Linked DNA regions of Homo sapiens. The protein of the gene in region 6 purifies or fractionates together with the protein of the main gene of each other region. This does not show direct contact. Each region holds a gene or a part of one and is shown on either strand. Other genes may lie near its edges. The genes, in order: SMARCA5, PDGFRA, CNP, ANKRD28, TRIM25, CGAS and MAP7D1.

Region 1 (3,500 bases), on a different chromosome or scaffold from region 6:
ACCACACATCACCCCCTACACTGATTGTAAGATGTAAGAGTTAAGTGTCAGAATTCAAGCAGATCTGATTCTTAAGCCATTGTGTTTTTTATTAACAGGAAAATAATCTACTAATTTAAACCTTTATCCTTTTTCCCATCATAAATATGCTTTAACACTACTCCAAAATACTTACCATATGAAGCCTCTCAACTAGTTTTTGATCCCCAAGGCAGTTGTTTGTATCAAACCAGGAATCAAAGTCCTAGATAAACAAACAAAAAATATACTCAGATCAGAGATAATATTAACAAATACCCTATAATACCAGATATAGAAATGATTTCTAGAATTAGTAATTTGAATTGTAACCCACAAAAAAAAATCACTTAGTCCAATCCTGGTTTTCATGTGTCATTGTTACTAATTTTAAAACAAGTAGTTCAGAAATCACACTACCTTCTAAACATTCTTCTCAAAAACATCAAAATAACAAGTTTCACAGTAAAAAGTTGGAGAGCAAGTTCTATAGGATTAGAAAATTAATATTCTTGTAAAGTATCTTTCAAGTTTCATAAAAGCTTGAAAATTAAAACATTTTATAGTTTGTTCTCTGAGACCATTCGCACTACTCAAATACAAGTTTACGAACAATGTCAATTTTAATCAAACTTACTAAATGAAATTGAAATTACCAGCATTTCATTAATATTTGGTTACGATTTCAACAAGGGCAGTTTCCCTAACCTCATCTCTTGAACATATGTATTATATATGTGCTTTGTTTTTGAGTAAACATAATCTTAGAATTCACTGCTTTAAAGTAAATGAAAGTGTCAATGTAGTGAGAAACAGGAATTATCTCAAAAACATCAAAATACATAAAATCGAAGCTAAAATTGCTTTTGGAGTCTGATTAAATATCTTTTTACAACACAATCTATTCTTTCAAAACAATCTTCAACAGAAAAAAAACAAAATTAATTAATACCTTTTTATAACTTAATTGTACAAAAATATACTAACATGGAGCTCTTCAAATCCCTCCAATACACATAAGACGCCAGCTATGCAAACAAAGCTTCAAAAATAAACACTGGTCCAGGCAAAAAAAACTGCAATTTCTAATAGCACAAACTCTTGACATAGTTATTATATTACTATTAACAGTTCAAATAGCTAATTAACCATTACTATCCTTTCTATGACTATAAATAATCCATAAAGATTAGGTTCTATTTGTTTGTTAGACTATAATATAAGAAAAGCCAGACAGATTTCACTAAATTTGACAGTCATCCTTGGGACTTAAAACATAAGCAATGTGAGGTATACAAATCACTTCAGGAATACCTTGAGCAGCACCTTAAAAACATAACCAGTCAACCTAGAGCCACTGAAACAAAGTCAGGCCAACCTGACTTACCAAATAGGAGTGACAATTTATGCCATTTCAGATAGAGAAAACAATGATTTAAAGAAGACTGAGGCCTGGTGTGGTGGCTCGTGCCTGTAATCCCAGCACTTTGGGAGGCTGAGGCAGGCAGATCGCTTGAGGCCAGGAGCTTGAGACCAGCCTGGACAACATGGCAAAACCTCATCTCTACAAAAAACACAGAAACTAGCCGGGCATGGTGGCACACACCTGTGATCTCAGCTATTCGGAAGGCTGAGGCACAAGAATCACCTGAATTCCGGAGGTGGAGGCTGCAGTGAGCCAAGATCACACCACTGCACTTCAGCATAGGTGACAGAGTGAGACTACGTCTCAAAAAAAATAAAATAATAATAATAATAATGAAATAAGATTGAAACCAAAGGCACAAAAGTAAATTCCCATTATACAGAGACAACCTAGGAGATAACACCAGGCTAACTATGTAAATAAAAGCATAAAAAATTAATAATAACCTCAAGCCATGCTAAAAGGCAGGCCACTTTTATTACAAAAATATATAGCATTAAGCAAAATATTATTATTAACCAGAAAGCACCAGGAAATACTTACATCTGCTGAATTAAACACATCTGGCAACAGAAAGTTAAGAAGTGACCACAGCTCATGCAAGTTGTTCTGAAGAGGTGTTCCAGTTAATAATAGTCTATTTGTAGTCTTGAATTCCCTCACTATTTCTGACAACTGAAAGAAAAGAACCAAATACACCATTAGAATATTCTGCATATTGCATTATCTACAACAGCAAAGACCTGGAACCAACACAAATGCCCAACAATGATAGACCGGTTAAAGAAAATATGGCACATATACATCAGCGAATAGTACGCAGCCATAAAAGAGAATGAGTTTATATCCTCTGCAAGGACATGGATGAAGCTGGAAGCCATCATTCTCAGTAAACTAACACAGGAACAGAAAACCAAACACTACATGTTCTCACTCATAAGTGGGAGTTGAACAATGAGAACACATGGACACAGGGAGGGGAACACCACATGCCAGGACCTGTCGGGGAGTGGGGAGAAAGCAGAGGGAGAGCATTAGGACAAATACCTAATGCATGCGGGGCTTAAAACCTAGATGATGGGGTGCAGCAAACCACCATGGCACATGCATACCTATGTTAACAAACCTGCACGTTCTGCACATGTATCTCATAACTTAAAGTTAAAAGAAAAAAAAATCTGTACTTTAATCAAATTCTTACATGAAGGCTTTTCACATCTAAGTATCAAATTACCTTAGATTTTTCATTTTTGATCCTGTGAGCTTCATCTATTACTAAGTATCTCCAATTAAATTTTTTGAACACAGACTTCTCTTTAATAAGCATTTCATAAGATGTTACACATACATCCCATTCTCCCGGTAATAAAACGTCTCTGACAAAAGCAGCCTGTGTAACAAGAGAAAAAAATTACATCACGTAGAAATAAACTACGCATTACATTTACTGATGACAAGTAATCTAGTATATAAAAAGAGGTGGGAATACTAAAAAGGAGTAGAGTAGCTAGCTATATTATGCAAACGTTTAGAACCAGCTTTCCTAAGACTAAAGTAACGTCATTAATCATTTAAATGTCAGAACCATTAAGTTTTAAAAAACTGACAAAGTTAACCAGTGAAAAATTCAATAGACACTTAAAATGTCTTTCTGCAATTCCACTAGATCGGGAAATTCTTAGGAGGCAGGTTTAGACAAAAAAGAGGGAGGTTTTAACATAAAGAAAGGAAGAGGGTGGAAAGATAGTTAGCAGTAGTAGGCATCTGCATTCCTTTCAGGTTTATAAATGTATTAACACATTCCTAATAGTATTATTTTAAAGGTAAGGAAACTGAAGCAAAGACTGGTTAAGTAATTACCACTCTTTGGGCTCCCAAACAAACAAACAAAAATTGATAACTTAAAATATCCAACATAACTAGAAAGGGAGAGAAAAATATAGACTTATCACTCACAGGTAAATGAAGAGGAAATAAAAAACAAGTACACAGCTATTCAGTAGAGTCTGAATAAATTTCCAAATCTGAGCTTTATATACTAATGTCATTATTTCCA
Region 2 (3,453 bases), on a different chromosome or scaffold from region 6:
CTTCCACTTCTGGGGCCACCTCTGGATCCCGTTCAGAAAACCACTTTATTGCAATGCAGAGGTTGAGAGGAGGACTTGGTTGATGTTTAAAGAGAAGTTCCCAGCCAAGGGCCTCGGGGAGCGTTCTAAATATGAATGAATGGGATATTTTGAAATGAACTTTGTCAGTGTTGCCTCTTGCAATGCCTCAGTAGCATCTCAGTGGTGTGTGAAGTTTGGAGATAGATGGATAAGGGAATAATAGGCCACAGAAGGTGAACTTTGTGCTTCAAGGACATTGGTGAGAGTCCAACAGACACAATTTATACTGCGACAGAACTTCAGCATTGTAATTATGTAAATAACTCTAACCAAGGCTGTGTTTAGATTGTATTAACTATCTTCTTTGGACTTCTGAAGAGACCACTCAATCCATCCATGTACTTCCCTCTTGAAACCTGATGTCAGCTGCTGTTGAACTTTTTAAAGAAGTGCATGAAAAACCATTTTTGAACCTTAAAAGGTACTGGTACTATAGCATTTTGCTATCTTTTTTAGTGTTAAAGAGATAAAGAATAATAATTAACCAACCTTGTTTAATAGATTTGGGTCATTTAGAAGCCTGACAACTCATTTTCATATTGTAATCTATGTTTATAATACTACTACTGTTATCAGTAATGCTAAATGTGTAATAATGTAACATGATTTCCCTCCAGAGAAAGCACAATTTAAAACAATCCTTACTAAGTAGGTGATGAGTTTGACAGTTTTTGACATTTATATTAAATAACATGTTTCTCTATAAAGTATGGTAATAGCTTTAGTGAATTAAATTTAGTTGAGCATAGAGAACAAAGTAAAAGTAGTGTTGTCCAGGAAGTCAGAATTTTTAACTGTACTGAATAGGTTCCCCAATCCATCGTATTAAAAAACAATTAACTGCCCTCTGAAATAATGGGATTAGAAACAAACAAAACTCTTAAGTCCTAAAAGTTCTCAATGTAGAGGCATAAACCTGTGCTGAACATAACTTCTCATGTATATTACCCAATGGAAAATATAATGATCAGCAAAAAGACTGGATTTGCAGAAGTTTTTTTTTTTTTTTTCTTCATGCCTGATGAAAGCTTTGGCGACCCCAATATATGTATTTTTTGAATCTATGAACCTGAAAAGGGTCAGAAGGATGCCCAGACATCAGCCTCCTTCTTTCACCCCTTACCCCAAAGAGAAAGAGTTTGAAACTCGAGACCATAAAGATATTCTTTAGTGGAGGCTGGATGTGCATTAGCCTGGATCCTCAGTTCTCAAATGTGTGTGGCAGCCAGGATGACTAGATCCTGGGTTTCCATCCTTGAGATTCTGAAGTATGAAGTCTGAGGGAAACCAGAGTCTGTATTTTTCTAAACTCCCTGGCTGTTCTGATCGGCCAGTTTTCGGAAACACTGACTTAGGTTTCAGGAAGTTGCCATGGGAAACAAATAATTTGAACTTTGGAACAGGGTTGGCATTCAACCACGCAGGAAGCCTACTATTTAAATCCTTGGCTTCAGGTTAGTGACATTTAATGCCATCTAGCTAGCAATTGCGACCTTAATTTAACTTTCCAGTCTTAGCTGAGGCTGAGAAAGCTAAAGTTTGGTTTTGACAGGTTTTCCAAAAGTAAAGATGCTACTTCCCACTGTATGGGGGAGATTGAACTTTCCCCGTCTCCCGTCTTCTGCCTCCCACTCCATACCCCGCCAAGGAAAGGCATGTACAAAAATTATGCAATTCAGTGTTCCAAGTCTCTGTGTAACCAGCTCAGTGTTTTGGTGGAAAAAACATTTTAAGTTTTACTGATAATTTGAGGTTAGATGGGAGGATGAATTGTCACATCTATCCACACTGTCAAACAGGTTGGTGTGGGTTCATTGGCATTCTTTGCAATACTGCTTAATTGCTGATACCATATGAATGAAACATGGGCTGTGATTACTGCAATCACTGTGCTATCGGCAGATGATGCTTTGGAAGATGCAGAAGCAATAATAAAGTACTTGACTACCTACTGGTGTAATCTCAATGCAAGCCCCAACTTTCTTATCCAACTTTTTCATAGTAAGTGCGAAGACTGAGCCAGATTGGCCAATTAAAAACGAAAACCTGACTAGGTTCTGTAGAGCCAATTAGACTTGAAATACGTTTGTGTTTCTAGAATCACAGCTCAAGCATTCTGTTTATCGCTCACTCTCCCTTGTACAGCCTTATTTTGTTGGTGCTTTGCATTTTGATATTGCTGTGAGCCTTGCATGACATCATGAGGCCGGATGAAACTTCTCAGTCCAGCAGTTTCCAGTCCTAACAAATGCTCCCACCTGAATTTGTATATGACTGCATTTGTGTGTGTGTGTGTGTTTTCAGCAAATTCCAGATTTGTTTCCTTTTGGCCTCCTGCAAAGTCTCCAGAAGAAAATTTGCCAATCTTTCCTACTTTCTATTTTTATGATGACAATCAAAGCCGGCCTGAGAAACACTATTTGTGACTTTTTAAACGATTAGTGATGTCCTTAAAATGTGGTCTGCCAATCTGTACAAAATGGTCCTATTTTTGTGAAGAGGGACATAAGATAAAATGATGTTATACATCAATATGTATATATGTATTTCTATATAGACTTGGAGAATACTGCCAAAACATTTATGACAAGCTGTATCACTGCCTTCGTTTATATTTTTTTAACTGTGATAATCCCCACAGGCACATTAACTGTTGCACTTTTGAATGTCCAAAATTTATATTTTAGAAATAATAAAAAGAAAGATACTTACATGTTCCCAAAACAATGGTGTGGTGAATGTGTGAGAAAAACTAACTTGATAGGGTCTACCAATACAAAATGTATTACGAATGCCCCTGTTCATGTTTTTGTTTTAAAACGTGTAAATGAAGATCTTTATATTTCAATAAATGATATATAATTTAAAGTTATACTAAGGTTTCAGCATTTTTGTTTTTAGTTTAATCATAAGAATTAAAGCAATCCTGTTCTATTTACTTTCTTAGCAACATTTGTAGGACTCTATATTAGGCCTTTTTTTTTTTTTTCCTGAGACGGAGTTTTGCTCTTGTCATCCAGGCTGGAGTGCAGTGGCGTGATCTCAGTTCACTGCAACTTCTGCCTCCCGAGTTCAAGCAATTCTCCTGCCTCAGCCTCCCAAGTAGCTGGGATTATAGGCGCCTGCCACCATGCCTGGCTAATTTTTGTATTTTTAGTAGAGATGGGGGTTTCATCATGTTGGCCGGGCTGGTCTCGAACTCCTGACCTTAGATGATCTGCCTGCCTCGGCCTCCCAAAGTGCTGGGATTACAGGTGTGAACCACCACGCCTGGCCTTTATTAGGCTTTTGATGAACCAATAGAATATCTAAGGTTTAAGACATTATATGAGCTAGATTGTTCCACGACACAGTATTTGACTTAAAGATGAT
Region 3 (3,500 bases), on a different chromosome or scaffold from region 6:
ATCCGCTTGCCTTGGCCTCCCAAAGTGCTGGGATTACAGGCGTGAGCCACCACCGCACCCAGCCACCCCCAATTTTAGATGATCTTCATGCCTGAAATAGCCCCACTCTGGTTTGTTGACATTGTGTATATTGCACAGAAGCAGGGAATTTGTGCCTGTATGGGTTCTCAGAGAGCTTTTTTCTCAGCTCCTAAACTTGAACTCTGCAGTGAACTGTGGTGCTTGCAGTGACATTGGCCAGGAGCAAGCCCTGTACCTGTGAGCTGGTGGCTCTGCCCTGGAGTGACTACTGCTCAAAGTTGCTTTTAATATTTATTTATGAGACGGAGTCTTGCTCTGTTGCCCAGGCTGGAGTGCAGTGGCATGATCTCGGCTCACTGCAACCTCCGCCTCCTGGGTTCAAGCCAATTCTCTGCCTCAGCTTCCCAAGTAGCTGGGAATACAGGCGCCTGCCACCATGCCCGGCTAATTTTTTTTTATTTTTGTATTTTTAGTAGAGACAGGGTTTCACCATCTTGACCAGGCTGGTCGGTAGCACAAAAGAAAGGAGGGGCCCTTGGCCCAAGATGGGACGAATCAAGCTTGACAGGATGATTGCCAGATCTTTTTTTTTTTTTTTTTTGAGACGGGGGTCTTGCTCTGTCGCCCAGGCTGGAGTGCAGTGGGGCAATTCGGCTTACTGCAACCTCCATCTCCCGGGTTCAAGCAATTCTCCTGCCTCAGCCACCCAAGTAGCTGGGATTACAGGCACCCGCCACCATACCTGGCTAATTTATAAATTTTTAGTAGAGACAGGGTTTCACCATGTTGGCCAGGCTGGTCTCAAACGCCCCGCCTCAATTTCCCAAATTGCCGGGATTACAGGTGCGAGCCACTATGCCCAGCCTATTTTATTTGTAAAGGAAAACTGGATTTTTCTGCCCAGGATTAGAGCAGGAGAAATGTAATGGGCCAGCAAGGCTGCTCTCAGGAGAGGCCTTCCTCCCCTGTGGAGGGCGAGACATCCTCATGGGGACTCAATTCAGAACATAACAGGAAAAAGCGAGTGACTCCAAAGACAGCCACAGGTGTGGAGTCTGGAAATCAAAATCACAGATACTCCACTCCTCTTTGTGTCTTCCAGCCCCATAATGTCACCCCATTATAGTCCAAGACCCTTCCTGTACCAGGAGGCCCCCCCATAGGCCTGCAAGGTGTGTATTAAACTGATGGTGACGTTGTGACTGCTTGTCCAGATGGGCCCCTGAGTGAAATGGGGCACTACTGATAGTTCCCTGGTGGTCCTGGGAACACTGGGGTATATGGTCACCCTAACTGTTGTGCTGGATTGATAGATAGGGTTGGTCACTTGCCCGAGGCCGATGGCTGGTACATGGCAGAGCTGAGATATTCACTGTGTTCTGGCTGTTTCCACCGTACCATGTTGTTCCCAGCCCTCTGTTTTCTTTCCACCCCACTTCCCATGACTTGCTTCCCCTTTGAGACGTGGTGCTAGTAAATCTTAGATTCCCTTGGCCTGTACTGCCTGCCTCTGTTACAAATGCCTTAGAGTTTGGAGAAGAGATGGAAAGATCTATACAATGTAAAGCCAGAGAATTTTAACTTTTTTTTTTTTTTTTTTGGAGACGGAGTCTTGCTCTGTTGCCTAGGCTGGAGTGCAGTGGCACTATCTCGGCTCGCTGTATCCTCTGCCTCCTGGGTTCAAGCAATTCTCTACCTCAGCCTCCCAAGTAGCTGGGATTACAGGCGCCCGCCACCACGCCTGGCTAATTTCTTTGTATTTTTAGTAGAGACGGGGTTTCACCATCTTGGCCAGGCTGGTCTTGAATTCCTGACCTTGTGATCCACCCACCTCGGCCTCCCAGAGTGCTGGGATTACAGGTGTGAACCACCGCACCTGGCCTGAGAATTTTAACTTTTTATTGCTCTAAAGTTGCCATTAGTTTGACCAACTAACCAATGAATGAGCTGTAGTGGGTTGCTGGAGAGGTGATGCTTAGTGTCCGAGTGTTTTGCGCTGGGCCTCGGTGGTCCTGGTGGCGGATGTTGGTATGCCCCTGCTCCCCTGCCCTGACTGCACCCGTTTTCTCCCGGCAGTCGTCCCTGGGGATGAGCCCAGGGAGAAGATGGACTTGGTCACCTACTTTGGAAAGAGACCCCCAGGCGTGCTGCATTGCACAACCAAGTTTTGTGACTACGGGAAGGCTCCCGGGGCAGAGGAGTACGCTCAACAAGATGTGAGTCTTCCCCAGGGACACATGGGGGAGGTGGGAGGTTGGGGGAGAAGGGGCTGCAGCATCTTCTGAAGATAGGTACCGGTGCCAGGCAGGGACCAAAAACCAGATGGCAGCTCAAGAAAAATGGCATCTCCTCCTCCTAGCTCCCCTGTCCCCAGGCGTAGCTGCATAGACCTCAGCCGCAGGTTCTAAGGAGCCTGCCCTGGCAGTACTGCCAGCCTGTGCATTCACCTGCCCCCAAGCACCTTCGCCTTCTGCAGATTCATGGAGAATGCTGGTCCACAGTGGGCTCCTGCTCTGGTCTCTCTGAGCCTGTTTTACCTTCCAAAGACTAGGAGTCCTTCGCCCCCAGGGAGCCTGGTGCACTGAGGTCCCCATCCCTGTCCCCAGGTCTGAGGTCTGGCCTGGCCCCAGAGTGAGGGAGTTTCATACGATAATGAAGCTTATTGGCTAATGGGTACGAGACCTTTCTGCACCACACAGCTGGCACCTTACACCCACAGCCACTGACAGTGATCCCTGAATGCCAGGCATGTCACCCATATCCACAGTCTCCAACTTCCAAGTGTCCACCCCCAAGCCCACTCTCCCACTTCTCTGCCTAGGTTAGCACAATCGTTTGTTTGTTCACTAGAGTGTCCTCCCAAATGGAAGCTCCCCTGAGGGCGAGTTTTTAAGTTTCGTTGACTCCTGTGGTTCCAGCACCCTAGCATAGTGGAATGAATATGTAACACCTGAGCTACCATCCCTAACCATGCCTTCATTTAGCATTTATTAACTACCCATTTCATGCCAGACACTGTTGGGACAAGGGATCGTGAGCAAAAATAGAAAAGCGTTTATGCTGAGATGGGATGGGCTGTCTCAAAGAATCAGATAGAAGCAGACATATCATCAGATGGGAACCAAAGTGTAAGAGCAGGTTTCCATCAAGGGCGAGTCTGACCTCAGTCTGACCTCACCCTGTCCTCCAGGGCGCTGTCTGGGTCCCAGGGGAAGCTGAGCGGTGCCAACAGTAGCAGCTGTTGTGTGCGCGGACACCCCTGTGGGCTGTTTACCTAGTCACTCTCATAACCACATTAACTCTGAGGTAGGCTCTGGTTCTCCCTGTTTTACGGGTGATGAAGCCAAGGCACCGAGAGGTCAGCCAGCCCGCTGAGGCCGGAAGCCAGTGTGCAGGGAGCTGGGCTCCCTCAGGAAGTCCGGCTGTCCCCGTGTGGCCCTGTCTGAGCGCCTTCGTGTTTCTCACTTGAGCCTGGAGCG
Region 4 (3,500 bases), on a different chromosome or scaffold from region 6:
TTGTCAAGGGTCAAAGAGAACAACTGATGTCCTTCCAAGTTTGGCAGCAGTGGCTGAAGGCTGTCCGTATTTTTAATTAAATTTTATTTGTTCAAAGTAGCTGGGGGAGTGCTTCACTGCCCACACTTCTTTCAAGGGTTCTTCTAAAGGTGCCTGCTGCTGTTCCTGCTGCTGGCAGGCAGAACAACCCATTACATAGGCCAGGATGCCTTGGATGAGAGCGGGAGTGGGGAAAGAAGCTTGTTTCAGGTGTGTTTTCTAGTCAGAATATGACTAAAAACAGGCTCCTCTCCTCTGCATGGGGGTTATTTTTTGAGACGAAGTCTGGCTCTGTCACCCAGGCTAGAGTGCACTGGCATGATCTCGGCTCACTGCAACTTCTGCCTCCTGGGTTCAAGCGATTCTCTTGCCTCAGCCTCCCAAGTAGCTAGGATTACAGGCACATGCCACCACACCTGGCTAATTTTTGTATTTTTAGTAGAGACGGGGTTTTGCCATGTTGGCGGGGCTGGTCTCGAACTCCTGACCTCAGGTGATCCACTCGCCTTGTGCCTCCCAAAGTGCTAGGACCATAGGCATGGGCCACCATGCCCGGCCAGTTTTATCTCTTAACATGCCACTCTCTTTGCTTAGAAAGTTCCTCCCCCACTTTCTCCTTATCCTTTGGATTTTGGCTTAGCAGTTGCATTTTTTGGGATGCCTTCTCTGATCCTGCAAGAAAGGATTTGAAGACCCTCTTAAGTACTCTCATAGCATTCTATGCTTATTCCAATTAAACTATTTTAAGTGCATCGTTAATAGGCTGTTTGCACTCTTATCTCCATTCAAGGGAGTAGACTATGTCTTATTTTACACTATATCATCAGAAGTTAGTACAGTGCTTGGCATAATCACTCATGCAGCAAATATTCACTGAGCCTCCACTTGCTCAGGCACTATTTAGAACACTAAGAATATATCAGTGAATGCAACTGACAAAGATTTCACTGTTCTTGTGGAGCTTACATTCACTTTAGTGGAGAAGACACAAAATCAACATAACAAAAAAGTACATTATATACAATATGTTAAAAGCTTTATGTAAAAAAAGAGGAAAGAGTGGAGCAGGTTAACAAGGACTGAGAATGCTATGGTAGGGGTATCTAGCAAGTTGTAGTAAAGAATAGTTAGAATATGCTTCATTGAGAAGATGAAACTGGAGCTAAGATTTGAAACAGGTGACGAATTTAGTCATGGGATGTTTGGGGACAGAGTGTTCAGGCAGAGTAAACAGCCAGAATGAAGATCACAATGCATGTATAACCCTGCTATGGAGGGGCTGGCATGGCAGAATGAAGTAGAGAAAGGAGAAGAGTAGGAAATAATATCAGAAAGGTAACAAGGTGGAGGACACATCATGTAGGGCCTAGTAAGGTCATTTTAAGAACTATGAGTGGGGCCAGGTGGAGCACTCTGGGAGGCTGAGGTGGGGGGATTGCTTGAGGCCAGGAGTTCAAGACCGGCCTGGACAATATAGTGAGAGTCTGTCAGCACAAAAAATAAATTAGCTAGGCCTGGTGATGCATACTTATAGTGCTAGCTACTTGGGAGGCTGAGGTGAGAGGTTCTCTTGAGCCCAGGAGTTCAAGGTTACAATCAGCTATGATCTCACCACTGTACTCTAGTCTGGGCAACAGAGTGAGACCCTGCCTCTTCAAAAAAAAAAAAAAAAAAAAAAAAGAAGAAGAACCGAAATTCAAGAGTAACATGTTCTCATATACTTTAAAAGGATCCAGGTCAGTCTGGTAGCAGTAAAGAAAAAAGTGGGCATACTTTAGATCTACTTTAGAGGTGGAGTCAATAGTATATGCTGATGGACTATACATTGAGTATGAGTGAGAGGAATCAAGGATGACTCTAGGGGTTTTGCCCTGAGCCACTGTTAAGAATGAGAATTGTCTTCAATGGAGAGAGCATGATGCTGTGGGGAGAGTAGGTCTGGCAAGGGGAGTGGGAAAGGATCAACAGTTCAGTTCTGCACATTCTAGGTTTAAGCTGTTTATCAGACATCCACATGGATGTGTCAATTAGGCACGTGGATATATAGAGACTGTGAGAAGTCTGGGCTGGAGATATAAATCTGGGAATCCTCAGCATTATAGGTAGTATTTAAAACCAAAGGAACTGATGAGAGCACTAGGGAGTCAATGTAGATAGAGAAAGCAAAAAGAACGAAGAATTGAGTCCTAGAAGAAGAGGGAGAAATTTTGTAAAAGAAATTAAGAAGGAATAACTAGTAATGTAGAAGGAAAACCAAGGAAGAGTGGGGTTCAAAAAGCAGAGTAAAAAAATTTATCAAAGGAAACGATCAGTTGTGCCAAAAGCTGATCTATCAAGTAAAATGAGAGCTAAGTAGTAGTTAACACAGTAGAAGTCATTGGTGGTTTTGATGGGAACAGTTTTGCTATGTGTAGGGGTGAGGGGGAGAAGGCCTGACTATACGGAAATTAAGAGAGAATGGAAGAATGAGGCTGGACGCTGTGGCTCACACCTGTAATCCCAGCAATTTGGGAGGCCAAGGCAGGCAGATCACCTGAGGTCAGGGGTTTGAGACCAGCCTGGCCAATATGGTGAAACTCCGTCTCTACTAAAAATACAAAATTTAGCCAGGCGTCGTGGCAGGTGTCAGTAATCCCAGCTACCTGGGCAGGCTGAGGCATGAGAATCGCTTGAACCCAGGAGGCGGAGGTTGCAGTAAGCCGAGATCATGGCACTGCACTCCAGCCTGGGCAACAGAGCTAGACTCCGTCTCAAAAACAAACAACAACAACAACAACAAAAGAATGGAAGAATGAGAGGAATAACTGCGGACAGCAAGAGAGTAGTTTTGCTGCAAAAGGGGACAGAGAAATATGGCAGTAGCTGGCAGGAGCAGTGAGATTTATAAATTATTTTTTAAGGATGAGGGAACTAATGTTTATATACTGAGAGGAATAATACAGGAAGAGAGCGAAAAATGTTACTCCAGGACACAAAAGAGAACTGTCAAACTGACATTATGAAGTAGGCAAAAGGGGACAGGATCTAGTGCATGAGTAGAAACACTGGCTTTAAATAAGAATATTAGTACTTAACTAGGATCTTGATACATATTTGCTGAAAGAACAAAATCTTTGGCTACTAAAACAACAGAAAGTGGCAAGTATAAACAGTAAATACTAACTTTGCTGTAACAGATGATATAGGAATTCGGAAGTACATCTGTTAGATAACTTTTCCTATTTCTTTTGCCCTTATTCCTTTGCCACAAACTACTCTTCAATATTAACTTTAGCTCTCCTCTTTGACCAATAAAAAATATCCAAGTTTATTTCTCTTCAAATATGGATCAAAAGATAAAAGCTCTAGGTTAAGGGAAGAGAATATAGAACCAACTTACCATTTTCATCTACTGCAAGCACACTTGCTCCTTTTCCCAAAAGTTCCTGAACCACCATTGTTAGCCCATTTCGGGCAGCAAC
Region 5 (3,500 bases), on a different chromosome or scaffold from region 6:
TCCCCTGCCACTGCTCCCACTCCTCAGACTGGGCCCAGGGTCCTTGTCATCCTCTTGGGACTCTTGCATGGGTAGTATCGCATTCTTCCTTGGGATCCCCGTATATCTCCCTCATTAGGTTGTGATCTCTGTGAGGTCAGGGGCTGCGGCTTATTTATTTATTTATTCAGGATCTTGCTCTGTCGCCCAGGCCGGAATGCAATGGCGTGATTATAGTTCACTGTAACCTCAAACTCCTGGGATTAAGTGATCCCTCTGCCTCAGCCTCCCGACTAGCTAGGACTATAGATACACACCATCATGCCCGGCTAATTAAAAAAAAATTTTTTTTTTTTTGAGACGGAGTCTCGCTCTGTCACCCAGGCTGGAGTGCAATGGCCCAATCTCTGCTCACTGCAACCTCTGCCACCCAGGTTCAAGCATTTCTCCTGCCTCAGCCTCCTGAGTAGCTGGGATTACAGGCATGTGCCACCACACCTGGCTAATTTTTGTATTTTTAATAGAGACATGGTTTCACTACTTTGGTCAGGCTAGTCTTGAACTCTCGACCTCAAGTAATCTGCCTGCCTCAGCCTCCCAAAATGCTGGGATTACAGGCGTGAGCCACCGGGCCCAGCCTAAAAAATTTTTTTTGTAGAGCCAGGGTCTCGCTAAGTTGTCCAGACTGATCTTGAGCTCCTGGCTTCAAGTGATGCTCCTGCCTTGGCCTCCCAAATCATTGGGATTACAGGCTTGAGCCACTGTGCCTGGCCTGTCTGATTTTTCTTCAACGCTATTTCCCTAGTGCCTAGCACAGAGCCTGGCCCATAGTAAATCTCTGTTGTGTAGTCCAAGATTGGGCTTGAATCTCAGCTTGGCCTGCCGAGTGTCCTTGCAGAAGGGCTTCTGAAATCGGTGGCGGTGCAGCCCCATTGTGGAAGTGCTGCGTGGGGGCAAAGCTATAGGTGGCTGGTATGTGGGAGGAGGGGAGAGAAAGAATAGTGGGAAAGGAACAAGTGTTGACCCAGCCTCCGCTACATGACCTTGATCTCATTCAGGAGTCACATCAACCATGAGCAAGGTGAAGTCATCCCCATTGTGTGCTCGAAGAAACCAAAGCTCAGAGAAGTCTCAGAGGCCACAGAGCTGGGTGCTGGTGGAAAAAAGACTTGGCCCTTGCTACATTTTAAAAAGTCAGAGAAAAAAGGGAATACACCAAACTGGTTCTTAGATCACCTTGTTTGTAGCTCTTGTAAGCGATGGGATGGGGAAGGTCGGAGGAAATGGCTGTCTGTGTAAACCCTCTGCCTGCCCACCGACCCATGGCAAAGCTGGCTGCTAGGGTCAGTGAGAGGAGCCGCACACACTGAGCCCTTCTTCTCTGACACAGGTGACCCTGGAGAGCATGACCCAGCGTCCACACACAAATCCACACGCCCTGTGAAGAAGGTCTCCAGTAAGTAGCCCCACCCCTGTCTCCATGGCAACAGCATGGCTGTGGCCTCCCCAGGCTCTGGCCAAGTCACTTCCGGCCCATCCCGAGTCACTGTGGGGCCTGGACCTCAGTGGGAAAGAAGTTGGTGGCAGTCCCCACTGCGGGGGGCTGTAGGGCTGTGGCAGAAGCTCCGCTGTCCATCAGCATTGCACGTTTGGGCTGCCTGGAACAGCAAGATGCCTGAGGCTGGCTTGTTTTGAGAAATATTTACTATACCCAAGTCCTTGGGCAGAGCCTTGGGCAAGGAGACTGATGGCGGTCCAGGAAGGGTGGAGGCTAAACCTCCTTGGCATCTCAGCAGTGTTAAGTCTCTGGGTTGTAATGGGCTTCTGCTATTACCATGTTTCTCAACTGTTTTTTTTTTTTTGGTTTCTCACTGTTACCCTCCTCCTGCTCATCCCCAGAACCATTTGAGAAAATTTTTTTCCTAATTACAACCCATGAAATTTTAATACCACCCATCTACTGCATAACTGTTTATGTTTGTGCTTTTACACATAAAAAGAGTAATCTTTTTTACTCCCCCTCCCCCAAGGATCCATTTTTGCCCTCCTAGGGGTACTATCCCCCTCATTGGGCAGGCACCTGCCATTGACATGGGGGTTGAGGAGAAGAGTGGTCCTGTTCTGCAAATGTGGACAATAGTGATATCGAGGCCACAGGATGATTCTGAGTGATGAGGGGACACTGATTGTGAGAGCTCTTTATGAGCCATATACCACTGAGATGTCCATATACCACTGAGATGTCCATATACCACTGAGATGTCCATATACCGCTGACATGTCCATATACCGCTGAGATGTTCATATACTGCTGACATGTCCATATACCGCTGAGATGTCCATATACTGCTGACATGTCCATATACCGCTGACATGTTCATATATCGCTGAGATGTCCATATACCGCTGACATGCCCATATACCGCTGACATGTTCATATACCACTGACATGTCCATATACCACTGAAATGTTAGCTGTCATTGCTTCCCTGAAAAGTTGGTGTGAACCCAGGAGGGCTGGCTGCACACTGCTGGTGTTGGGGGGATGAGAGAGCCAGGGCTTGCTCTTTGTTGTTGTTGCTTGTGCTTAGTGTTCAGGTCACCTGTAGCAGGCAGAGTGTGGTATCGGTCCCCGAATGGAACAGAGTCAGGGCTGGGATGCCTGGTGCAGATGGAGGAGGGAGCCCTTAGCTGGGCCGGAAAACCTCGAAGGGTACTTTGTGTGAAAAGAGGAGTGAAAGAGGAAGTGGAAAGGTACTGTTGACCTGTGTCCTTCCCCAGTCACCTTCCTCTGAAAGCTCCTCCCTTAGTATGAATGAGGTAGGGATGCCGGCCAGCAGGCAGGTGTGTTCCCCAGTGAGGTGAGGTCCTCATGTCACAGCAGAATGACACCCTGGAGAATAAAGTTCGGGAATGAATCAAGGCTCCTCTAGGCTGAAATGGGGAAATAGGGGAGGGGGTATGGAGTAGTCCCAGTGCAGAGAGATGTCTAAGGGTAGGTGATGAGGGAGGTGCCTGTGCCCTAGATTGATGTCACAGCCTGGGCCTCCCAAGATGCTGGTCCACAGGGAGTGGGTGGGAAAGTGGCAGAAGGGGAGGAAATGGGAGAGTGAGCGACTGTGAGTGATGTGACTTCGAAGTAGGAGAAGCGGTAGCAAGGGGGCTTTGTGGTGTGATGGGGGTCTGGGGGAGGGAGAGGGTAATAGGAGAGAGCAGGGCTTATCTGTAATGTCAGGTGTCCTGCAGGTGGGCAGGGATATGATTTCAAAAACGCCCCTTTTTGTTCCAGTGTTGTGGAAGGTGGCAAAGAAGGAAGCTGGGATCTTCTAGCCCACTTGAGTGGACTTTGGACTCACCTGGAGGGCTTGTACATCACAGATTGCTGGGTCTCACCCCCAGCCTTTATGATTCAGTGGCTCTGGCTTGGGGCCCAAGAATTTGCATTTACTATTTTTTAAGAGACAGAGTCTCGCTCTTTTGCCTAGGCTGGAGTGCAGTGGTGCGAACAGAACTCATTGCAG
Region 6 (3,500 bases):
TAATACTGAATAGGTGTTTGATATTAGGGAATTATTACTTTTTTCTTTCATTTTTTGAGACAAGATCTCCCTCTATCACCCAGGCTGGAGTGCGTGAACACAGCTCACTGAAACCTCGACTTCCCAGCCTCAAGCAATCTTCTCATGTTAGCCGTTCCAATAGCGGGACCAGAAGCATACATCACCATGGCTGGCTAATTTTTGGATTTTTTTGTAGAGACGGGGTCTCTCCACCTTGCCCAGGCTGATCTCAAACTCCTGGGGTCCAGCAATCCTCCCACCTCCCAAAGTGCTGGAATTACAGCTGTGAGCCACTGTGCCCAGCTAATATAAGAAAATTATTATTTGTTTATACATTTATTTTTATTTATTTTTATTTTTTGAGATTGAGTCTCGCTCTGTTGCCCAGGCTGGAGTGCAGTGACACCATCTCAGCTCACTGCAACCTCTGCCTTCCAGGTTCAAGTGATTCTCCTGCCTCAGCCTCCTGAGTAGCTGGGATTACAGGCATGCGCCACCATGCCCGGCTAATTTTGTATTTTTAGTAGAGATGGGGTTTCACCATGTTGGCCAGGCTGGTCTCGCACTCCTGACCTCAGGTGACCCACCCGCCTTGGCCTCCCAAAGTGCTTGGATTACAGGTGTGAGCCACCGCTCCCAGTCATTGATTATTTTTTTAAGACAAGGTTTCACTTTGTCACCCAGGCTGGAGCGCAGTGACATGATCTCGGCTCACAGAAGCCTCAACCTCCTAGACTCAAGTGATTCTCCCACCTCAGCCCCCCAAATAGCTGGGACAACAGGTGCATATTACCACACCCAGCTAATTTATTTTGTATTTTTTGAAGAGACAGGGTTTTGTCACGTGGCCCAGGCTTGAACTCCTGGGCTCAAGTGATCCACCCACCTCAGCCTCCCAAAATGCTGGTATTACAAGCATGAGCCAACACTCCTGGCCCAGTCTCCTTTGGTACTGGTTTAAAATTTTCATAATAAAAAGTTTTGGCCAGGCGCGGTGGCTCACGCCTGTCATCCCAGTACTTTGGGAGGCCGAGGTGAGCAGATCACCTGAGGTCAGGAGTTTGAGAGCAGCCTGGACAACATGGTGAAACCCTATCTCTACTAAAAATACAAAAACTAGCCAGACACGGTGGTGGGCACCTGTAATCCCAGCTACTCAGGAGGCTGAGGCAGGAGAATCGCTTGAACCCAGGAGGTGGAGGGTGCAGTGAGCCGAGATCGCACCACTGCACTCCAGCCTGGGTGACAGAGCGAGACTCCATCTCAAAATAAATAAATAAATAAATAGTTTTAAAATAGATCAATTACCTATGAATAAATTAACAAAAGATATACAAAACCTCTGCAGAGAAAATGCTAATGAATGAAGCTGGGAAGTATTAGAGGAGATGTAAATAAGTGGATTGGGAGACTCAATATTGTTAACATATCAACTCTCTCCCATGTTTTTTTTTTTTAATACAGACAGTGTCTTGTTATGTTGCCCAGGCTGGAGTGCAGTGGCAAGATCATAGCTCACTGTAACCTCGAACTCCTGAGCTTAAGTGATTCTCTTGCGTAACTAAGACTACAAGCTACAAGTGCACACCACCACGCCTGGCTAATTTTTAAAAAGTTTTTATAGAGATGAAGACTCACAACTCTCTATAAAAACTTTTATAGAGAGTTTTTTTTTTTTAATTTTTTTTTGAGACGGAGTCTCTCTCTGTCACCAGGCTGGAGTGCAATGGCGTGATCTTGGCTCACTGCAACCTCTGCCTCCTGGGTTCAAGCGATTCTCCTGCCTCAGCCTCCCGAGTAGCTAGGACTACAGGCACGTGCCACCATGCCCAGCTAATTTTTGTATTTTTAGTAGAAATGGGGTCTTACCATGTTGGCCAGGATGGTCTCGATCTCTTGACCTCGTAATCCACTCACCTTGGCCTTCCAAAGTGCTGGGATTACAGGCGTGAGCCACCACGCCTGGCTAGAGTTTTTACACAGTGTTGTCCAAGATGGTCTTGAACCCCTCACCTAAAGCAACTCTCCTTCCTCAGCCTTCTGAAGTGCTGGAATTACAGGCATAAGTCATCATTCCTGGCCCCAAATTTATCTATAGATTCAACATTATCTCAATCAAAATTCCAAAAAGTATTTTGTGGAATCTGAAAAGCTGATTTCAAAATTTATATGAGAATGTAAAGGGTCAAGACTCTCTCAGACACCCTTGGAGAAAAACGAAGTGGTAGAACTTGCCCTAAAAGATATTGAGACTAATTATAAAGCTACATTATGTACAACAACATGGTACAAAGATAGACAAAGATTTTAATGGGACAGAATAAAGAGTTCAGGGATAGCTACACAATACGGTTGGCCCTCTGTATCTGAGGGTTTCACATCTGAGAATTCAACCAATCGTGAATTGAAACCCACAGATATGGAGGGCCAACTGTATTATATCATTTTATGTAAGGGATTTGAGCATCTGTGGACTTCGGTGTCTGCAGGGTACCCTGGAGCCAATCCTGAGGGTCAACTGTACATGACTGTAAAGAAAGGTGGCACGTACCGTTGATAAAATTTGATAAGGATGGCACTTTGCCTCTGTGACCTTCCTCCCCCAAACCAATAACTCTGATCTAATCATAAGAAACATAATAAAGAAATCTCAAGTAAAGGACATTCTACAAAATACCTAACTAGTACTCCTCAAAACTGTTAAAACCAAAAAACTGTCACAGTCAAGAGTAGCTTAAGGAGACATGACAACTAAATGCAATATGGTATCCTAAATGGGATCTTGGAACAGTAAAAGGACATTAAGAAAAACTAAGGAAATCTGGATAAAGTATATAATTTTTTTTTTTAATGGAGTCTCGCTGTGTCTCCTAGACTGGAGTGCAGTGGCATGATCTTGGCTCACTGCAACTCCACCCACCAAGTTCAAGTGATTCTCCTGTCTCGGCCTCCTGAGTAGCTGGGACTAAGTCACATGCCACCACGCCTGGCTAATTTTTGTATTTTTTTAGTAGAGACGGGGTTTTGCCATGTTGGCCAGGGTGGTTTCGAACTCTTGATTTCAGGTGATCTGCCCACCTCGGCCTCCCAAAGTGCTGGGATTACAGGCAAGACCCACTGTGCCCAGCAGATATAGCCCTTAGCTAACAATAATATATCAATATTGGTTTATTAATTATTAAATGTATTGTATTAATGTGAGATATTAATAATAGGAAAATGGGGGTGCTGCAGTGGCACGTGTCTGTAGTCCCAGTTACTTGATAAGGTGAGGTGGGAGGATCATTGAGCTCAGTTCAAGACCAGCATGGGCAACATAGTGAAACTCTGCCCCACTACCTCCCCCAGAAAAAACCCCAGGGGAATGGGTATGGGGTTATACGGGAACTCTCTGTACTATCTTCACAATTTTTCTGTAAATACAAAACTATGCTAAAACAAAAAGTTTATTTTTAAATAAACTACACTGAGATATCATT
Region 7 (3,500 bases), on a different chromosome or scaffold from region 6:
CTTCAGTAAATTAGTTTGGGCCTGGAAACTGGCTGGGGACATGCAGGTTCTGAGATGAACATGACATTTAGTGTTTAGAGAGACTAAGCTTTGGAGCAGCTTGAGGGTCTAAATACACACTAGCTAGGTAGCTTTCTACAGTACCCCCACCCACATATCTACATACCCAGCCACCCACCCACCCATCGGACATTCATTAAACAGACACAGAACTCCCACTCTGTGCCAGGCAGGTCCTGTATAAGACTCTGGGGCTGCAAAAAGGACTAAGACTGAGTTTCTTCTCTTGATAAGCTCTCACACTGACAAGGGCAGGGGGTGGCAGGCAAACAGAAAAGCTAGACTGAGTTATCAGTGTTGTGAGAGGAATATTTGGCCCAACAAGAGTTGTTGGGGTGGGAGGAGGGAGAGACAAAAGGAAAGGACTGCCAGCTCTCAGAGGGTGGAGATGGGGTGTTAGTATTCTGAGACATGTGACAGTCTCTCTGAGGGACTTGGCCCTGATCTTTCTGCAGACCCCAGGCACAGCCCCTCTTGGAGCTCTTAGGAAGACAGGACTTTTTGACCCCACAATGCAACCCACCACTGCACTTTTGCCCTGCTAATGCTCTTTGTGCCAAGAAATAAATACAAATTATTTGTCTCTTATCTCATTCTTAACAAATACTTCTGGTAGATATTAGTGTAGCAAAATAAAACCAACAGTGGCAAAACCTCACAATCTGGCATAGACCAAAAATAAGATAAAATTAAGTAGCCGAAGGATCATATTTGATGGTTAAAAATGAGAATGATCATAAATAGATTAACCATACTGTATAGATAACTAACCAAGGAGTTTTGGCTTAATGTGATTTGCTCCATAACACTGTGCCAATGACATTTCATCAGGGTTGGCATAATTGTGAAGAAAATATTTGTATTCAGGGTCAATAGTGTGCCAGGTCACAAGAGGAGTTCCAAACTTCTTGTTTGCCTCTTGAGAAGTTTTTCTTGTTGAGCTGCTGGAGTAAACACTCATTATTATTTTTATTAACTTCTACCTGTGTGGCTTAGTCCAGGAAGCTGCCCAAACACTATTGAGATGGAGTTGTTTTGCTTCTCTTCAAATGTTTATCTTTTTGCTATAAGTTGCCACATAGATATATACTTTTTTTCTTTTTTTTTTTTTTTTTTTTTTTTTTTGGAGACAGCATCTGATTCTGTCGCCCAGGCTGGAGTGCAGTAGTGCAGTCTCAGATCACTGCAGCTTCCACCTCTGGGTTCAAGGGATTCTTCTCTCAGCCTCCCAAGTAGCTGGGACTACAGGTGTGCACAACCACGCCCAGCTAATTTTTGTAGTTTTAGTAGACATGGGGTTTTGCCATTTGCCCAGGCTGCTCCCGAACTCCTGGGCTCAAACGATCTGCTCTCCTTGGCCTCCCAAAGTGCTGGGATTACAGGCGTGAGCCACTGCGCCCAGCCTAGATCTACTCTTTATTAGAGTAAAAATCTTCTATATGCTTTAGGCTAGGGCAGCCTCATAGTATAGCACTTTATTTGTGTTATACTGTTTATTCAAATATTTTATGACTATCTCCGTATACTTGGCACTGTGGTAGCTGCTGGTGATGCAGCAGTGAGCAAAGTAGACATGGCCAGCTCTTGTGGGGCTCCCTCACCTTCTAGGAGGAGGCTGACAATAAGGAAAGAACCATGCAAGGAAGTTTAAAATCATAACAGTGACAGTGTTCCAAAGGCACATGAAACCATGACTATATACAACAAGGGAATTTATCCTAATCAGAGAAGCCAAGGAAGGCTTCCATGAGGAAGTGATGACTGAACTAACATATGTAGGGCAAATAGGAGTTAGCTAAGAAAAGAGAGTATGTGCAAAGGCCCTGTGGCAGGAGGGAGTGTGGATGGTCATCAGCATTAAAGGAAGGTCAGTGTGGCTGGAGTTCAGAGAGCAAGCGGGGAGCAGGGTAGGAGAGGAGATCCAAGAAGTAGGGGGAGGGAGTCAGGAACTTCAGATTATACTATTATACTGGACTAGTAGGGTGAGTTCAAGAAGGGGAAGCCACTGACAAGTTTCAAGTGGCAAAGAGCACCGTGATCAGATTTGCATTTGCTCTGGCTGCTCAGTGGAGCAGAGAGTGGGAATGGGTACAGGCGAGCAGTGAGAGGACTTTGTAGTCATCCAGGTGAGAGCGATGATGGTGATGATGATATCTGCCTGGGTGTAGTTCATTCATTTCTTCATTCAACAAATAGTTATGGAGCACCTATGTGCCAGGCTCTGTTGGCCCTAGAGATAGACCAGCTAACAAAATAGGCAAAAATTTGTGCCCTCATAGAGATTATATTCTAGCAGTGGGAGACTTAAAATGGTGTTAATGCCTATGGAGAAAAAGAAGACTTGGAAAGAAAAATCTAGTTGGAACTGGGAGGGAGACTTCAACTGCAGTTTGTAGTTTTATTTAATTTTTTTTCTTTTTCTGAGACAGCATCTTACTCTGTTGCCCAAGCTGGTATACAGTGGTATAATCATCGCTCACTGTAGCCTCAAACTCCTGGGCTCAAGGTATCCTCCTGCCTTAGCATCCTAACTAGCTGAGACTACAGGTGTGCACCACCATGCCCAGCTGTTTTTTATTTTTTAGTTGAGATAGGGTCTGGCTGTGTTGCCCAGGCTGTTCTCAAGCTCCTGGCCTCAAGTGATCCTCCCACCTCAGTCTCCCAAATTGCTGGGATTACAGGTGTGAGCCACCTTGCCTGGCCTTTATTTAATTTTATTTAAAATTTTTCTTTTTTTTCTTTTTCTTTTTTTTTTTTTTTAGAGACAGGGTTTTGCTTTGTCACCCAGGCTGGAGTACAGCAGCATGCTCATAGTTCACTGTAACCTCAGTCTCTATTTCAGCATGTCATGATGCCTGGGTAATTTAAAAAAATTTTTTTAGAGATGGAATCTCACTATGTTGTCCAGGCTGATCTCAAACTCCTGGCCTTAAGGGATCCTCCTGTCTGGGTCTCCCAAAGTGTTGGGATTACAGGCATAAGCCACCGCACCACGCCTGCAGTTTGTAGCTTTTTTTTTTTTTTTTTTGGAGACGGAGTCTCACTCTGTCATCCAGGCTGGAGTGCAGTGGCACGATCTTGGCTCACCGCATCCTCTGCCTCCTGGGTTCAAGTGATTCACCAGCCTCAGCCTCCCGAGTAGCTGGGATTACAGGCACATGCTACCACACCCAGCTAATTTTTGTGTTTTTTAGTAGACGGGATTTCGCCATTGTGGCCAGGCTGGTCTCGAACTCCTGACCTCAGGTGATCCACCTGCCTTGGCCTCCCAAGGTGCTGGGATTACAGGCGTGAGCCACCGCTCCCAGCCCAGTTTGTAGTTTTAAATAGGGGCTAAGGGAAGGCTCCATTTAAAAGTGACATCAAAATAAAGACCTGAAGGAGGGGAGGGAACGAGGCACGCAGAATCTGGGGGCAGAGAATTCAAGGCAGAGAAACAG

What was found.
Region 1: the proteins of CGAS (region 6) and SMARCA5 purify together in Homo sapiens (affinity purification with mass spectrometry, with the first as the bait; one large-scale study listed by BioGRID). This does not show direct contact.
Region 2: the proteins of CGAS (region 6) and PDGFRA purify together in Homo sapiens (affinity purification with mass spectrometry, with the first as the bait; one large-scale study listed by BioGRID). This does not show direct contact.
Region 3: the proteins of CGAS (region 6) and CNP purify together in Homo sapiens (affinity purification with mass spectrometry, with the first as the bait; one large-scale study listed by BioGRID). This does not show direct contact.
Region 4: the proteins of CGAS (region 6) and ANKRD28 purify together in Homo sapiens (affinity purification with mass spectrometry, with the first as the bait; one large-scale study listed by BioGRID). This does not show direct contact.
Region 5: the proteins of CGAS (region 6) and TRIM25 purify together in Homo sapiens (affinity purification with western blotting; 2 studies listed by BioGRID, with this or other methods). This does not show direct contact.
Region 7: the proteins of CGAS (region 6) and MAP7D1 purify together in Homo sapiens (affinity purification with mass spectrometry, with the first as the bait; one large-scale study listed by BioGRID). This does not show direct contact.

Annotation. Positions count from the first base shown.
Region 1 is NC_000004.12:143,527,202-143,530,701, reverse strand, and holds part of SMARCA5 (SWI/SNF-related matrix-associated actin-dependent regulator of chromatin subfamily A member 5), read right to left. Parts: intron 2,835-3,500; coding exon 2,679-2,834; intron 2,120-2,678; coding exon 1,988-2,119; intron 245-1,987; coding exon 176-244; intron 1-175. UniProt on the Homo sapiens protein: ATPase that possesses intrinsic ATP-dependent nucleosome-remodeling activity.
Region 2 is NC_000004.12:54,295,293-54,298,745, forward strand, and holds the end of PDGFRA (platelet-derived growth factor receptor alpha isoform 1 precursor), read left to right. Parts: 3' UTR 1-2,953; downstream 2,954-3,453. UniProt on the Homo sapiens protein: Tyrosine-protein kinase that acts as a cell-surface receptor for PDGFA, PDGFB and PDGFC and plays an essential role in the regulation of embryonic development, cell proliferation, survival and chemotaxis.
Region 3 is NC_000017.11:41,969,795-41,973,294, forward strand, and holds part of CNP (2',3'-cyclic-nucleotide 3'-phosphodiesterase), read left to right. Parts: intron 1-2,097; coding exon 2,098-2,237; intron 2,238-3,500. UniProt on the Homo sapiens protein: Catalyzes the formation of 2'-nucleotide products from 2',3'-cyclic substrates. May participate in RNA metabolism in the myelinating cell, CNP is the third most abundant protein in central nervous system myelin.
Region 4 is NC_000003.12:15,672,480-15,675,979, forward strand, and holds part of ANKRD28 (serine/threonine-protein phosphatase 6 regulatory ankyrin repeat subunit A), read right to left. Parts: coding exon 3,419-3,500; intron 712-3,418; coding exon of another isoform or gene 602-711; exon of another isoform or gene 1-601. UniProt on the Homo sapiens protein: Regulatory subunit of protein phosphatase 6 (PP6) that may be involved in the recognition of phosphoprotein substrates. Involved in the PP6-mediated dephosphorylation of NFKBIE opposing its degradation in response to TNF-alpha.
Region 5 is NC_000017.11:56,897,050-56,900,549, reverse strand, and holds part of TRIM25 (E3 ubiquitin/ISG15 ligase TRIM25), read left to right. Parts: intron 1-1,369; coding exon 1,370-1,435; intron 1,436-3,500.
Region 6 is NC_000006.12:73,431,798-73,435,297, forward strand, and holds part of CGAS (cyclic GMP-AMP synthase), read right to left. Parts: intron 1-3,500. UniProt on the Homo sapiens protein: Nucleotidyltransferase that catalyzes the formation of cyclic GMP-AMP (2',3'-cGAMP) from ATP and GTP and plays a key role in innate immunity.
Region 7 is NC_000001.11:36,162,660-36,166,159, forward strand, and holds part of MAP7D1 (MAP7 domain-containing protein 1), read left to right. Parts: intron 1-3,500. UniProt on the Homo sapiens protein: Microtubule-stabilizing protein involved in the control of cell motility and neurite outgrowth. Facilitate microtubule stabilization through the maintenance of acetylated stable microtubules.